2 separate regions of the Homo sapiens genome follow, and region 2 is linked to region 1. The links come from fine-mapping of genetic effects on gene expression. A gene starts in region 1. The other region holds a variant in brackets. All regions are shown on one strand. Distances are between the middles of the regions.

Region 1 (9,308 bases):
AAAATTAACTAGATGCATGCTGCAATGATCCCAATTCCAGCCCAATATTCTTACTGTTGTATTACATAGTAAACATTTCAGAGCTGAACAACTTTTAAGAGATCTTCTCTAACCCCCTTATTCTTCACCAGATATATTTTACATACTGTTTGTTGTCTGCTTCTCACCCCCTGCCATTAAAACACATATAACTGCCCCAAAAAAAAGTCTGAAAGAGCAGAGAAAATATCTGGTTTGCCCACCCAGCACCAAGAACAGTGCCTGGCACATAAGGATTCAGAAATACAACAAGCAAGCAAAAAGAATAAAAACAGAGTAAAAGCAAGCAAGCGAAAAAGAAACTGAGACCCACAGAGATAAGTCAGAAAAGGAAGCAGCAGGTATTCCAAATCTATGAAACCATGAGGTCCAGTGCTATTTCTACTATGTTGTTACCCTTCTAGACTCATGTCACCACGATCCTGAATTGTTAACTATTTCATGTCTCCTTCCCTGTTCCAGAAAATACTTATGCTCTGTTCTCAATGACTGGTGCCTATTCTCCCAACTTCAATTCACTTTGATCACATTAACAAACCTCTAAAAGTTGGGATTTTAAATTTTTGTATAAGGATAAGCTCTAGGCCAGGTGTGGTGGCTCATGCCCATAATCCCAGTGCCTTCAGAGTCCGAGGCATGAGGATCATCACTTGAGCCCAGAAGTTTTAGACTAGCCTGGGCAACATAGCAAGACCCTGTCTCTACAAAAAAAAATTACAAAAATTAGCCGGGCTTGTTGGGGCATGACGGTAGTCCTAGCTACTCAGGAGGCTGAGGCAAGAGGATCACTTGAGCCCAGGAGTTCGAGGCTGCAGTGAGCTATGCTCGTGCCACTGCACTCCAGCCTGGGGAACAGAGCAAGTCTCTGTCTCTAAAAATAAATAAGTAAGGATAAATTCTAGATGTACTATTGATAACGGTTTTGCTGTGTCCCCAACCAAATCTCATCTTGAAGTGTAGTTCCCATAATCTGCACATCGTGGGAGGAACCTGGTGGGAGGTAAATGAATCACGGGGACGGTTACCTCCATGCTGTTCTCGTGAAAGTGAGTTCTCACAAGATCTGATGGTTTTTATAAGGGGCTTTCCCCACCCTTTGCTCTGCACTTCTCCTTGCTGTCACCTTGTGAAGAAGGACATGTTTGCTTCAATTTCTGCCATGATGGTAAGTTTCCTGAGGCCTCCCCAGTCATGCTGAACTGTGGGTCAATGAAACCTTTTTCCTTTATAAATTACCCAGTCTTGGGTATGTCTTTATTAGCAGCATGAGAACAGATGAATACAATTACATACATTTTACATATATTAAATAGTATGTAACACTAACCAAATCTGTGGGTTCATCTTCTTCTACCTCGGCTTCATCATCTTCATCCTCAATTATGGAATCTTCTACTGTTTCTTCATCCTCTGTAAGATCTTGTGCCACTGCTAACAAGCCTAATGATAAAATACAGAAAAAGCAGTTACCCTTTACTCTGAAATACTAATTTCTTTTTTTAACATCAGGTATAGGCAAAAAAAACTTCCCTTGGACTAACAGAATCTCCCAGTTCACCTGAATGATGCCAATTACAATGCACCGAAGAATATTTATATTTTAGTTTACTAGTAGTCTTAACAACTGCATATCAATTTTTTTTTTTTTTTTTTAAGAGTCAGGGTCTTGCTCTGATGCCTAGGTTGGGAGTACAGTTGTGCAGTCATAGCTCACTGCAGCCTCAAACTCCTGGGCCCAAGTGATCCTTCCACCTCAGCTTCCTGGGTAGCTAGGACTAGAGGCGTGAACCACTGTTCCCTGCCTTCCATGTTATTTTTAATGGGAAATGTGGTTTAACTTCAAAAAGTGCCCAACAGATGGAAAAATGAATGGCACAAACTAAAGATGCCTTGAAGCACAAAGAACTTCAAGCAACTTTGTTAAGCAAATTAAGGAAAATAATTTTTTGCAAAGATAAGAAACTTCTAAATGTAATCCCTGTCATTAACCATACAAAGCAAACTAAACAACCCCCACGTTTAAAAGAAAACAGCATTCTTGGCCGGCGCGGTGGCTCACGCCTGTAATCCCAGCACTTTAGAAGGCTGAGGAGGGTGAATTACTTGAGGCCAGGAGTTCAAGACCAGCCTGGCCAATACAGAGAAACCCCGCCTCTACTGAAAATGCAAAAATTAGCTGGGTGTGGTGGCACACACCTGTGGTTCCAGCTACTCCAGAGGCTGAGGCAGGAGAATCGCTTGAACCCAGGAGGCAGAAGTTGCAGTGAGCCAAGATTGTACCACTGCACTCCAGCCTGGGCGACACAGCAAGACACCGTCTCAAAAAAATAAAAATAAAAAAATAAAGCATTCTTAAGTTCTAATGTTCTATGTAGGAAACACTGTTATCAGAGGTGACTACAGCTGAAACTCTTAGAACTGGATAGTTTGTAAGCCAAGGAACAAATATCTGTAATCATATCCATGGTAAAAACTGGCTTGCATGAAAAACATTGTTTAGTAAAAACTGTATTGGTAGCTTCAGGTTTGATAGCAAAGAAAGAATCCAATTATTTTTGCATGTGGCTTCAAACATGTTTTAAGATATTTTTTCTCAAACTTAGTGTTACAAAGTACAGGTATAATGCAAAAAAAAGGTGAATCACAGTTTTATAGACAATAGTACTCTAAGTAAGTCACATTATATCTATTTCAGGCAAGACCATAAAAAGAATTTCAAAGTTCTAGTGTCTTCCAACATCTCTCAGAAAAAATGATGATGTGGCAATTCTGTGGATAAAAAACATGGGAAGGGAAGCGTGTTTTCACCCAGGAGAAACAGTTAAGGACCATGCATTTGCAGTCTTTTCCATGTCTTTAAGTTCTCACTGGCTGCTAAGATTTATTGCAAAATATTAAAGAACACTGAACCATGCATTATGAACTAAAGAGATTTCACTGCCTGCTGAACAAAGCCTAAAATAGTGCATTCATAACTTACAAGTCCTTTTCAAAAACCAGTAAGAAAAATACCATGTCTGATATAGTAATTTAAAGTCGTGGTTAAATTTGAGCACTTTGGAATATAAAGGCCTTTCATAAATATTAAACAATTTTATTATTTTAATGTTAACCAATAACAATTTTGTCCCCATGAAGTCTAACAGTCTTCATTCAACTGGAAAAACCAAACACAAAAACCGTTTCTCACAAAAAATGTTTACAAGATATTAATTCAGTTTAGATAATGAATTCATGCTTCTTGAAAGTTTTTATAACTTGAAAATAGTTATAAATAGTTCTAAAACTAAAACTACATTTGTCAAGTTTTCTTTTAAAAAGCTTAAAGAGTACCAGCAAACGACTCCTAAAGTAAAAAATCTTGTTAAACCTGCAGATTAACTCATTAACAGTTGTTTAATTCTCCCACTTGGTTTTCTAGCCATTAAACAGAAGCCAGTCACTTCACTTTTCATCGCAAAACAACTCGTGAATACCTGTCACTACCGTTAAGACACACAGCTTGCTTAAACTTACAGAATGAAAGGGATGCTTAGTCAGACTAATTATTTCACTTTACAAATTAGAAAGTCGAAGTTCACGACAAAACCTGTGCAGGAAGTCAAGTTGCCATATTTTTATATTCTGCTAAGTTATTTTCACACTTAATTGCTGGGTTAATTGTTGAAAGAATAAATCTATGTATTAAAAACACTCGAAGTAGGCCACATTTTTTCAGCACAATACGATGTTTCCACAAACAAAAAATTGTTCCATGGAAAGACAAGAAGAGGAAGAAGGCAGAAGGGAGACATCCCACAGGGATTCTTCAGTCTGCTTGGCAGCAGGGGCGGATAACGGGGGTGACGATGGGGTAGTTTTTCTGAAATCAAGCCTCCTAGTAACACATACGGGTCAAGCAGGGCGTGAACAAGGCAGATGACCATTGAACAAGACACTCTGATGGCTTAGATGTGTAGAAAACAAGGGTTTTGGCAAATGAATGAAGACGGACTCCCGGCGTGGAAGCTAAAGACACGTCAGCCCTGAGCGCGAGGGGCTGGGGGTGGAGCGGAGCCGGAGGTGGCCAAAAGAAACAGCCCGGCTGCGGCGCGCTCGGAGCGCAGCCGTGTCCAGCGCCTCCTCCTGCAGCCGAGGACCCTCCAGTTCTGGCCGCTCCTGCAGGCGAGGGTCCAGGGCAAGAGGAGCAAGCCCAGCCCTCGGCCGGCCACGAAGCAAGGTCGCCCGGGCACGGCCCCGCGCTCCGCGTGCAAGGGGCAGGCCGCAGCGGGGTCTCCAGCGCCCGCGGGGACCCCTGCTGCTACGAGCCTAGGCTTGGGGAGAGGGCGGAGAGAGGCCAGCGGGGTGGACGCGGACCCCAGGACCCGGAGCGGCCACCGCCTCCAACTTCAAACTTGCCATCACTGGCATCTCCTTCCTGGCCATCCCCTCCGCACACTCCCCCAGCCTCACCTCTGGGGCCGCCTCGGAACAAGACAGTGGCAGGGAACACGAGTAAGAGAAGCAGCAGCAAGCGGGGGAGGAGTCTCATGGCGCTGCCGGTCCAGTGTCCAGTTTCCGTCGGCTAAGGCTCTCGGCGGCTCCGGCGGTAATGGCGTTACTCTTCATCCGGGCTCCGGGCAGCGAGGGGCGGGACACGTACCGCGCACGGGCCTTTGCCACGCCCCTCCCTGGACCAGGGACCGCCGCCGACGTGGCTGCTCAGCGCGGAGAGGTGGGGAGAGCAGGCCACCGGGAAGTCACGTGGCCGGCTGCTGCCTCTTTGTGGCTCCCGCGAGAGTCCGCCTTCCGCCGCAGTTGCGACCCGGCAGCTTGCGGTTAGCCGTTCTTTCCGCCCAGTTCTTTACTTCCAATTAATTAGCATTGTCAGTGGTTACTTTATTTGAATGACGATCCTCTTGATAACGGCGATGTAAGGAACATGAGCTGCCTTTATGTGGCACTTAAAAGCAAAAAATTTTGTTGGAAGAGAGGACATTGTTCAAAGGAAAAACCATGAAAATACACAGTGGAAAATCTTTGTCCCCTGTCTGCCCACACCCTCTCCCATGGTTAAGTAATGACAATTCTTAAATTATTATTTTTGAGACGAAGTCTTGCTCTGTCGCCCAGGCCAGAGTTCAGTGGCACCATCTCTGTTCACCGCAACCTCCGCCTCCCGGGTTCAAGCGATTCTCCCGCCTCAGCCTCCTAAGCAGCTGGGACTACAGGCGCGCACCACTACGCCCGGCTAATTTTTGTATTTTTACTGGAGACGGGGGTTTCACCATGTTGGCCAGACTAATCTCAAACTCCTGACCTCAGGTGATCCACCCGCCTGGGTCTCTCAAAGTGCTGGGATTACAGGTGTGAGCCACTGCGCCTGGCCAGCAATTCTTAAATTCGTATGTGACATTCCAGAATTATAAGTCACCTAAACAGTGTTTTGGTATGTAGTCAGCATTTGTAACTATACAATAGGTGCAGCAATGGCTGTCCAGTTTTCTTTAGTTTCCTTTTCATCTATTTTGGATTTGAGTTGCTGGAGTAATATAGCAGTTCATGAAATTAATCTGAATATTAAGTAATCTTGGTCTGGACCAGAGTGAGATGTCATAAAGATGAGGAAATAAATCATATGCTTACTATTGTCAATCACCTCCTTAGAGCTGTGCTTTTTCATTTAATTTTCTAAACCTCTCTATGAGCTGGATATTATTTACTGAGGAGAAAACAGACCCAGAGAGGTTAGTAATTTACTCAAAGCTTCAAAACGCTAGCAAACGGCAGATGCAAGATTTGAACAAGGCTATCTGGTTCCAGATTCCATACACTACTGACCTAGGACATTTGCTGTTCTACTCCTGCATTGTTTCCGCTTCAGGTCTCCTTGTCCTGGGGGCTGTAAATGCAGCTTGGACCCACTGCCACCACTACCTACAGTCTGCTAAAGTCACAGCCTGATGGTGCTGGGCTGAATCAACCAAATTCCACTCTGCCAGGCCACCAGTGGCACCGCTGCTGTGTTGCTGCTGCTACTAGGGCGCCCAGCATAAGTGGAGGGCCTCCTCTCACTTTGCTGCTGCCTCTGCTCCTGTGCACGCTACCAGTGTTGCCACTCTATGTCAGAGCTGTGTCTGGAATAGGGTTCTTGGTCTCACTGACTTTAAGACTGAAACCGCAGACCCTCGTGCTGAGTGTTACAGTTCTTAAAGTCCAGAGTTTGTTCCTTCATCATGTTCGGATGTGTTCCGAGTTTCTTCCTTCTGGTGGGTTCATGGTCTCACTGGCTCAGGAGTGAAGCTACTAGACCATCGCAGTGAGTGTTACAGCTGTTAAGGTGTCCATTCCTCCTGGTGGGTTCATAGTCTCGGTGGCTTTAGGAGTGAAGCTGCAGACCTTCGCGGTGAGTGTTACAGCTCATAAAGGCAGTGAGCAGCAGCAAGATTTATTGCAAAAAACAAAGCTTCTGAGAGGTGACAGCATGCTGGCAGTACTCAGCCCTCGCTCGCTCTCGGCGCCTCCTCTGCCTGGGCCCCCACTTTGGTGGCACTTGAGGAGCTCTTCAGCCCACCGCTGCACTGTGGGAGCCCCTTTCTGGGCTGGCCAAGGCCGGAGCCAGCTCCCTCAGCTTGCCGGGAAGGTGTGGAGAGAGGCGTGGGCGGGCGGGAACTGGGGTTACGCGCGGTGCTTGCCAGCCAGTGCGAGTTCCGGGTGGGCGTGGGCTTGGCGGGCCCTGCAGTGGGAGCGGCCAACTGGGCCAGGCGGGGGGCAGTGAGGGGCTTAGAACCTGGGCCAGCAGCTGCTGTGCTCGATTTCTCACCGGGCCTTAGCTGCCTTCCCGCGGGGCAGGGCTCGGGACCTGCAGCCCACCATGTCTGAGCCTCCCCCAACCCCATGGGCTTCTGTGCAGCCGGAATCTCCCCGACCAGCGCCACCCCCTGCTGCACGGTGCCCAGTTCCTTCCACCACCCAAGGGCTGATCAGTACAGGTGCACAGGCATGGGACTGGCAGACAGCTCCACCTGCAGCCCCAGTACGGGTTCCACGGGGTGAAGCCAGCTGGGCTTCTGAGTCTGGTGGAGACGTGGAGAACCTTTATGTCTAGCTCAGGGATTGTAAACACACCAATCAGCACCCTGTGTCTAGCTCAGGCTTTGTGAATGCACCAATCGACACTTTGTATCTAGCTACTCTGGTGGGACCTTGGAGAACCTTTGCGTCCACGCTCTGTATCTAGCTAATCTAGTGGGGACGTGGAGAACCTTTGTGTCTAGCTCAGGGATTGTAAACGCACCAATCAGTGCCCAGTCAAAACAGGCCACTCGGCTCTACCAATCAGCAGGGTGTGGGTGGGGCCAGATAAGAATAAAAGCAGGCTGCCCTGAGCTTAGCAGCGACAACAGGCTCCAGTTTCTTTCCATGCTGGGAAAATATCTGTTCTTTTGCTCTTTAAGCTCATATTGCCTTTATGAGTTATAACACTCATTATGAAGGTCTGCAGCTTCGCTCCTGAAGCTAGGGAAATCACGAACCCGCCAGGAAGAATGAATAACTCAAGATATGCCACCTTAAGAGCTGTAACGCTCACTGTGGAGGTCTGTGGGTTTACTCTTGGGCTAGTGAGATTACAAGCCCACCAGAAGGAAGAAACTCCGGATACACTGCCTTTAAGAACTGTAGTACTCACTGTGAGGGTCTGTAGCTTCATTCTTTAAGTCAGGGAGGCTAATGAGCCCCCAATTCTGGACACTGGAGTGGGACCTGAGCAGGTTGCCACTGATTCAGGCAGCCTGCTTTTTTTTCCGTTTATTTGGCTTCACATTCTGCTGGTTGGTTTATTTTAGAGCTGATTGGTGTGTTTTCAATTGGTGAGCTAGACACAAAGTTCTCCATGTCCCCACTGGGTTAGCTATACACAGAGTGTCAATTGGTGTGTTCACAAACCCTGGGCTAGACACAGTGCTGATTGGTACATTCACAATCCCTTAGTTAGACATTCTCCAAATCCCCACCAGATTAGAGTGCCAATTGGTGCATTCACAAACCCTGAGCTAGATACAGTGTGCTGATTGGTGTGTTTATAAACCTTGAGTTAGATACAGAGTGCTGATTGGTGTGTTTATAATCCCTCAGCTAGGCAGAAAGATTCTCTAAATCTCCACTAGATTCAGGAGCCCAGCTGGTTTCACCCAGTGGATCCCACACCGGGGCTGCAGGTGGAGCTGCCTGCGAGTCCCGCGCGGTGCGCCAGCACTCCTCAGCCCTTGGGTGGTCGATGGGACTGGGCGCTGTGGAGCTGGGGGTGGCGCTCGTCGGGGAGGCTCAGGCATGGTAGGCTGCAGGTCCCGAGCCTTGCCCCACGGCGGAGCAGGTAAGGCCTAGCGAGACATAGAGCACAGCAGCTGCTGGCCCAGGTGCTAAGCCCTTCACTGCCCGGACCCGCTGGCCGCTCCGAGTGCGGGGCCCGCCAAGCCCACGCCCACCCGGAACTCGCGCTGGCCCACAAGCGCCGCGCGCAGCCCTGGTTCCCGCCCGCGCCTCTCCCTCCACACCTCCCCGCAAGCTGAGGGAGCCGCTTCTGGCCTTGGCCAGCCCAGAAAGGGGCTCCCACAGTGCAGCGGCGGGCTGAAGGGCTCCTCAAGCGCTGCTGGAGTGGGCGCCAAGGCCGAGGAGGCCCCCAGAGCGAGCAAGGACTGCCAGCACGCTGTCCCTGCTTTGAGGTGACTGTACCTTACAGAGTTCTCCACTGACTCAGCATAATCTCCCTCCCCTACTTTGAGGCACCCTTTCATGAGTTTCAAATGAGACCTGCTCTGAGCTTGTTGATGTCTGACAGGTGTTTTGACAAATACATCTTTCTGTTTAACTTGCTACTCTCTCCTAACACCAAAAACAATTGATGGGAACTGTAATAGATGGTGAAGTTACAGACTTCATGCTGTACTCAAAATCACACCTGCTCTCCATCACGGCACCACCGTGTCTTACTGGCTTGCTTTCCCCATTCAGAGGACTGATTACTGAAGGGGACGACGTCTCATTCTTTATGGTAAAGAGATTCCTAGTAGGTCTGTCTCACCGGTTCTCAGATGTTTAGACGTAGCCTGAACATGTAAGGATAATTTAGTTTAGGCTTAACCTGTGACTTCCACTCCAATGATGATGTCATCAATCGATTACTATCGGATTTTATTTGGGACTTGAATTTTACACAACCAGCTACTATTGGTACAACAGGAAAAATAAAGTGTGCCTACTCGAGATATTACTGATGTGATGAATTTAGG
Region 2 (8,443 bases), 31 kb before region 1:
ATTTGGTAACTTTGTCATTATGCGTTTAAGGAGAAAATAGTTAAGATTACAATTCACTCAATTTAGGAACCAACTTTTTATTTTGAAGCTACAGCTGTGATCTATTGTTTCACTTCCCTTTATGGAACTCACCTAATGGAATTTCACAGAAACCATCTATAGCAACGCCTATGCACTTGCTTGCCAGTTTCTGTTAAGTTTTTGTTTTAGTAAATGCTTCCTGGTTTGAGCTGCAATGTACAACCAAGATGCCATTTCCACTTCTCAAGGTGGAGCAGTCTGATCCATAACCCTGCAAGTTCCCAGCCAGAGATGCACGCATTTGTGAACAGGACACACAAACCTGTGTCCAGCTCTGCCACTTAACGGTTGTGGAATTTCTGGCAAGTTAATTTAACCTGTGTTCAATTTCCTTATTTGCAAAATGGAGATACACCTACTTCACAGTGTGATAAATAATTCACATGAAACACCTACCACGTGTGTCAGGTCCTGTTTTAAGACTTGGTGAGCTGGTGACAAAATTCTTGCTGTCATAAGCTTACATTCACAAGGGGTGATGGGCAATGGAAGGACAAGGTAACTTCTGTGTGTGTGTGTGTGTGTGTGTGTGTGTGTGAGAGAGAGAGAGAGAGAGAGAGAGAGAGTCTGTCTCGCTCTGTCGCCCAGGCTGAGAGACAGAGAGACTTGCTCTGTCGCCCAGGCTGCAGTGCAGTGGCATGATCTCGGCTCACTGCAACCTCTGCCTCCCGGGTTCAAGTGATTCTCCTGCCTCAGCTTTCCAAGTAGCTGGGATTACAGGTGCGCGCCACACCTGGCTAATTTTTGTATTTTTAGTAGACACAGGGTTTCACCATGTTGGCCAGGTTGGTCTCGAACTCCTGACCTCAAGTGATCTGCCCACCTCAGCCTCCCAAAGTGCTGGGATTACAGGTGTGAGCCACTGCGGCCAGCCCAAGGTAACTTCTGATAGTGGTGAAGATAATGAGAACAGAGCAGGGTGTGTGGGGCCTTCCATGAGGGGAGTTTTCAGGAAGACTAAGAGCAGGGAAGATGGGGGCTGAGACCTGGGCAGAGGGGATTACTGCCAAGGCCCTGATCCTGGACAAGCCTGGCAGGGTAGAAGATGAGGAGGTGGCTGGCCAGGAAGCCTGGAGGGCAGCACAGGAAGGGGCAAGGCAGGGAGGGCGAGATACTGGAGAGCCCTGCAGGCAGTGGTGGAGCACTTGTGCTCACCTAGATGCCAGTGGAAGCCAGAGGAGAGTTTCCAGAAGAGAAGAGTCAGGATCTGATAGAGTGGCTTGGACTCTTGTGGGCATAAAGCCCGAGAGGCAAGGGGGTGGGGCAGGAGTGGCTGCACTGAGCACTGGCCTGGCACCAACTCGGCAGCAGAGAGGAGCTCATGTTTTTACAAACAGCAAAGAGAAAGGCTGAGTCCCTGAAAAGGAGAAATACTTTCAAGGGTTTTCTATTAAGAATCTATCTTGGGGCCGGGTGCGGTGGCTCACGCCTGTAATCCCAGCACTTTGGGGGGCCAAGGTGGGTGGATCACGAGGTCAGGAGATCGAGACCATCCTGGCTAACACGGTGAAACCCCGTCTCTACTAAAAATACAAAAAATTAGGCGGGTGTGGTGGCGGGCACCTGTAGTCCCAGCTACTCGGGAGGCTGAGACAGGAGAATGGGGTGAACCCGGGAGGCGGAGCTTGCAGTGAACCGAGATCACGCCACTGCACTCCAGCCTGGATGACAGAGCAAGACTCTGTGTCAAAAAAACAAAAACAAAAAAAGACTCTTATCTTGGGCTGGGCGCGGTGGCTCACACCTGTAATCCCAGCACTTTGGGAGGCCTAGGCAGGTGGATCATCTGAGGTTGGGAGTTCAAAACCAGCCTGACCAACATGGTGAAACCCCGTCTCTATTAAAAATACAAAAATTAGCTGGGCGTGGTGGCACATTCCTGTAATACCAGCTACTAAGGAAGCTGAGGCAGAATAATCGCTTGAACCCGGGAGGCGGAGGTTGCAGTGAGCCAAGATTGCGCCATTGCACTCCAGCTGCGCAACAGAGTGAGACACCGTTTAAAAAAAAAAAAAAAAGAATATCTTGATTTTCTTTCACTATGTAGTGACAATGCATCCAAGTTTTAAAAAGTGGCTCCGTTTCTTTTGGGGCCACAAATAAGCTATCCACAACCACTGGATTTATTATACTCATTGTAGGAGGCTCAGATAAATTTCACATTTGCATTTATTGCTTCCATTATAAAATATAGGCTCATTACAAACATTCTGAAGAAGAAAAAAAAAGTCCACTATCCTAACCAAAAACGGCTTTAGCATTTTGGTGTATTTCTCTTCAGACTTTGGATTAATCCAAAGTTTAATACTGAATGTTTCAAGCATTGCAGAGAAGACGTAATGCTGGTTCTTACTGCCCTAATATATTTTTTCCTAACTCCCCAAGCTTGTTATGCTCTAGTATTTTTTATTCTTCAAAGCATTTTTTCCTCTCAGCAGAAAAAGCTAAAAACATTATTATCTGGTAACAAAGACTGATTCTCCAGAGTTTGCACAGCCTCTAATTAAAAGTTACTTTTTCTATGAAGAACACTTTAATTCTACTGCTTAGAATACAATCTTGAAGGGAAAGAAATCTTAGGTGCTACTGACTTACTGGCTGGGTATACAGATGAGAAAATTACATCAAAGATCCATCTCGGCTTCCTTAGAAATGTTTAATAAGCGATCAGAGTATGCAGTCTGTGCAATTATTGGGAATGGAAAGTCAGTATGGGAGTGTGGATGGGGTAGACCTTACTTACTCATATACCTGCGTGAGGGGGAGTGTCTTTATGATCATCATCTGAAAAGCCAACTAGCTGACAGCCCAAGAGTGCCTGTAAAACCAATCTTAAATCACCTTTATTCTAAAACATCACTGAAATGTCTAAAAATGTGTGAACTTTTTTTTTTTTGAGACGGAAGCACCCAGGCTGAAGTGCAGTGGCGTGATCTCAGCTTACTGCAACCTCTGCCTCCCGGGTTCAAGTGATTCTCCTGCCTCAGCCTCATGAGTAGCTGGGATTACAGGCGCGTGCCACCACGCCCAGCTAATTTTTGTATTTTTAGTAGAGACGAGGTTTCACCATATTGGTCAAGGTAGTCTTGAACTCCTGACCTTGTGATCCATCCACCTCAGCCTCCCAAAGTGCTGGGATTACAGGCGTGAGCCACCGTGCCCGGCCAAACTTTTAAATAATTTCCAGGAGGACATTCCGATCAAAATTGTGATTTTTTTTCTTTTCTTTTTTTGCTTCTATTTTGGATTCCTCGTGCGTCTTGAGACCAAGCAGGAATATGCACTGGTACTTTAGAAAACATTTCATGTTGCACACAAATACTTTCATGATCAGCTTTAATTTAAGGGACATGTAAATAAAAAGATGCATTTGACAGGACAGCAGACTAGTTCAAGCAGGAGGTTAGACCAGTAACAACAACCAAGAAAGCAAAGTGCTCGTTTCCATCTTGGCTTTACCACACTTACAAACTGATACCCAAATAACAGAAATGTTTCTCAAAGCTGCACAAGAATTTTAAGGATTCATGACCCCACTTTCATTAAATAGTCCCAGAAGATAGCTAAATAACATTTTCAGATAGAACCTCACACTGCATAAGTTTCATAACAAACAAACCTAAGATATGCTGACAGAAATCACATTGAGTTTGCAAGCACTCAAATAGAAAACCCAAGACCTCCGGCAACAAATTAGAAAATATGAACAGAAATATTTTAAACCACAAGTATTTCATCCCAACTAAATTCCAATTTCTTCAATGTTCTCTGAGTTGTTAGATTTCAAAGTGAAGAGAACTGAAATCTCTTTTTATTCATAGCAGAGCCAAAACTGGAAGTCACTTATTAAATACCTGTGTACAAAACACCATACTTGGGGCTATATGCGATTTCAGGTTGGATAAACGAGTCATGTTGAATGACAAAAAGTTAGACTGGGGAGATTTATGGAGAGAAGCAAGCACCTGTGATTTGTTGGTTTGGCGTTACAATAAACACTGTAAGTGAAAATGAGTCACAGGCAGTTAGAATGGCGTTAAGGAAACCATTTAGGTCTAAAAATCAGGACTGAAGTGATCAACAGTTAACAGATGAAGCCATGAGAACTGGCA[C/T]GCTCTGGAAAGGCTGGTGCAGAGAGCAGGACGGTGAGCCTGAGTGAGCCTGGAGTTAGTCAACAGATTCCTCAACAGAAAAGGAGTGAGGAGCAGGGTCAAAGAAATGAAGGTGAATTTGGGGGGTGGTGGTCAATGGGTTAAACGTACAAGTTGAGGCCGAGGAACTGAGGCTGAAGAAGGTTCTGGCAAGTGGAGAACCATGAGATCCTGACAGAGCAGGCTTTTGTGGGCAGAAGCCATATTAGAAGAAGAGCTAAAGGAAAGCTGAAAACCTGGCGACGAAAAGGAAGCCAAGAACATAGGAGATATTTTGACAAAACGGAAAAACAACAGAACAGGAAGTGAGGCAGGAGAACCACAGAGATGGAAGCCAGGAGGTGTCCAATTAGACGGGCACAAGAGAAAAACAGCCAGAGACCGAGAAAACGGCGGGAAGGAAAGGTTCCATCTGGAGAAAAAAGCCTCTCAAGACTGGAAGGGACAGGAGCTGGTGACCATGAAGCAGTTCAGACTCAGCTCTGAGCCCCTTGTGTGGACCACAAGCAGCACTGCAAAGTCCTCGCTGTAGAGAGAAGACCATAGATGCACACAGACGGGGTTATCCCTTGAAACCAGATCCGGGAAGCCATCAGTCAAAAAGCCTGTGTGGTCACAGATGCTTACTGGTGGTTCCTGAAATGAGTATTTCTAGGCAGGGGGCTTCAGTATAAACCAGATGTGTGCTAGCTGGGTGGACTTCAAGTAAGGAGTCAAGACAAAACACTTAGAGTGACCTTTTGGCCACTGCTGTGTCTGCAGGCTCAGCCTCCTCTAGATCTGATTCCCACAGTGGAGGGACAAAGGGCCAGCAGCTTGTAGGACCAAATGAGAAAAATACATAATCATTATGTTTTAGCCAGAAAAAGGCAACTTGATTATGAACTGGATGACATATCAAATGCAAGGCCTTAAAATGCATTCACTCTAATAAACTGCTCTGTAGAATTCAAGGGAATGAAATCCGCTTCTCATACGTACCAAGGACCAACTGCTTTGAATCTTCCACTGTGGATGATGGCAACTGGTCCTTTTAGGAGAGCCATTTTCCAGACAGTCTTGTCTTTATTTATTTATTTTTTAATTGTTAGTAGCTTTTACTTATTATTTATGTACTTATTTTTTGAGACAGTCTCACTCTGTCACCCAGGCTGGAGTGCAGTGGTGCAACCTTGACTCACTACAACCTCCTCCTCCTGGGTTCAAGTGATTCTCCTGCCTCAGCCTCATGAGTAGCTGGGATTACAGGCGTGCACCACCTCGCTCGGCTAATTGTTTTTGTTCTTTTTTGAGATGGAGTCTCGTTCTATCTCCCAGGCTGGAGTGCAGTGGCACGATCTCAGCTCACCACAATCTCCACCTCCCAGGTTTAAGCAATTCTCCTGCCTCAGCCTCCCAAGTAGCTGGGATTACAGGCATGCACCACCACACCTGGCTAATTTTTGTATTTTTAGTAGAGGCGAGGTTTCACTATGTTCGCCAGGATGGTCTTGAACTCCTGACCTCAGGTGTTCTGCCCACCTTGGCCTCCCAAAGTGTTGGGATTACAGGTGTGAGCCACCGTGCCCGGCCTTTTTGTATTTTTTAGTAGAGATGGGGTTTCACCATGTTGGCCAGGCTGGTCTTGAACTCCTGACCTAAAGTGATCCACCCACCTCAGCCTCCCAAAGTGCTGGAATTACAGGAGTGAGCCACCATGCCCTGCCCAGTCTTTATAAATGAAGCTTGACTCTGGACTGTGATAGCAGAAACAAATACAGGCAGTGCCTCAGAGAATACAAAATATCAAGCAAATCCTAAGTGTTGAAGCTAGAACCCAGGTGAGTGCACTCTGCATTACTGAGAATGTGCTCCCTGCCAAAAGGCTCCTACCCTATTCCAACCAAGCCGGAAATGGCAACAGACCAAACGTGAGGAGTGAGTGCCTCTGTGCTCCTTGAGGCTGTTTCATTACAGATAACAAGGTTACCTAGGGCAGTTGTGAAGATGAAATGAGGATGTGTGTGGAAGGGCAGAGCAGATGCTTGATGTTCTCCATCTGAACACTACTCTTGACCACAGTATTTCTCATTCTCCTTTCTGAAATGCCTCTAGGCCTTAAGCGCCTATTTCTATAAATGTTGGGTGATCAGACCAATATGGTTTCTGAAAAAACTGTTCAGAAATAGACTAATTTTCTTTGGGTGGTTCAGTCTGATGCTGAAATAAATTGCAAGATGATTTTCAAAAATAACATGAACCCCAACAGCTTCACTGAGAAATATGGAGCCTCTTCAAACGTGTTTTTAAAAAGAACTGGATGTGCAGGTGTAAGAGATTTATTACAAAACAAAAACTCCCCTTGCCAGCCTTATTACTCTGGCTCATCATTAAAATCCAGTGCTAGCCATATTACATGCCCATCTTAAAACTTTTATCCTTTAGTTACAAAAAGAATACTATGTAGCTTACATATTCAGAATTTACCTACTACCCCACCACATCAAAGTCCATAAGGTACCATATACTCTTCCCCGCCCCATGCTTCATGGGATGTTATTACAGTATGGTGCTTTACAGCGAAAATGAGAGCAGTCACTTAAGCGGCTTACTGAGACCCAGGCAATGTTCTAAGCAGCTACACACAGTAACTCCTAACAACCTTAGGAGGCAGGAACCAAAAGCTGAAGCATCATACAACTTGCCTCCAACTAAGAGGGGATCTGGGGTTCAAACCCAGGCAGCCTGACATGAGCGTTTCCTTTTTTTTTTTTTCTCTTTTGCTAAGTAAAAAGTAGGTTTAAGGGAAGAATCATTTATAGTAACACTGAATTAAGTAAGGGTTTGTAGGTCACAGAATCAGACTATTTAGGGCTGATACTTCAAGCATATCTCAATTAACAAAAAAGCACATTGAGACTCCAAGGATGAACTGCCTTTGCTTAGTGGCCAGGGCACTGTCAAGACCCAGAGGTCTCCTAATTCCCACGCTAGCACACCATACCACCCCTTTGTTCAACCTCACAGAATTGCCAATACTAGCGTATCACCAGGAATACTTACGAACCATACTAACTCACATGGAAGAATGGCAAATGAAAACTGGCCCACATTTTCTTGTTCCTTCTTCAAAGAGTAATAGGGTTCTACCTAATTGTGAACTAGAAGCTGGGGATGAAAAACAAGCCAGATACAGAGCTCACAGTCCAGAAGGAGATGTCAACAAGATGACAGGCTGCCATGGGTACTGACAGAAGTCTACATAAGGGACAGCAGGGGAACAAAAAAAGGCACAGTCAAAACATCTTTGACTGCAATTTGGAGACTTTAAACAAGGATTATCCTTTCTACAGGCATACTGAATTTTCTTTTTAATGCCTCACTGTGCCTATTAAGCAAAATCCGTAATACAACACACCAGACAGAAGCCTTACCCTGTGAGCCGGGCGCAGTGGCTCACGCCTGTAAGCCTGACACTTTGTGAGGCCAAGGTGGGTGAATCACTTGAGCTCAGGAGTTCGAGACCAGCCTGGCAACATGGTGAAACCCCGTCTCTACCAAAAACAAAACAAAAACATTAGCCAGGCCTGTGGTGTGCGCCTGTGGTCCCAAATACTTGGAAAGCTGAAGCAGGAGAATCGCTTGAGCCCAAGAGGCAGAGGCTGCCGTGAGCTGAGATCATGCCACTGCATTCCAGCCTGGGCAATACAGTGAGACCCCATGTCAAAAAAAAAAAGAAAAAGAAAAAGAAAAAAGATAAAAGCAGCTTTACCCTGTAATCTTAGTTCTAGTACTATCTGGTTCTGTAACCCAAGAGCAGATACTTCACTCTTACCTTTAACGTGAAGATTTATCTTTCAATCCTTTAGAGCTTGAAAATGCAATCAACCCATGAAAATGTTTTTAAAGACCATGATTCTGTTCATCAAGGAGACATTTAAAGGTATGTCATTAACAGAAATTTAAAAGGGTATTGTGGGTAACTGAATTATCATAGATACAATACAGCAAGTATATATGGTATATTCATTACTGAGATGATTTGAACTTTCCATATTCAATATGGAACCTTGAGCAAGCTACTTAAATTCAGGTTTTGTCTATTCCATCTACAAAATGGGAACAGTATCACCTTCCTTCAGTGAGCTGTCGTAAAGGTGTGTGATATGATGACTAGAAAACAAACAGAACACAGCACGTGATTGATGTTTAATAAATGAGTTCCCTTCCCC

The links. PIP is the estimated chance that this variant, and not a neighbour inherited with it, causes the effect.
Region 2: its variant is fine-mapped to the expression of SSR1 in anterior cingulate cortex (GTEx, PIP 0.95).

The regions. Positions count from the first base shown.
Region 1 is chr6:7,308,551-7,317,858 of GRCh38, forward strand. SSR1 (signal sequence receptor subunit 1) reads right to left here and starts at 4,649. Exons shown (of 8, transcript NM_003144.5): 1 at 4,492-4,649; 2 at 1,367-1,479. The coding sequence starts at 4,570. RefSeq lists enhancers at 3,813-4,681, 4,682-5,548, 4,885-4,954, 4,965-5,024 and silencers at 4,105-4,154, 4,285-4,394.
Region 2 is chr6:7,277,743-7,286,185 of GRCh38, forward strand. It overlaps SSR1 (signal sequence receptor subunit 1), which reads right to left. Exons shown (of 8, transcript NM_003144.5): 8 at 3,401-8,443. Among named protein-coding and RNA genes, the nearest start is that of SSR1, 31 kb to the right of the region's middle. RefSeq lists a silencer at 4,000-4,200. The variant C/T (reference allele first, on the strand shown) is at 4,194.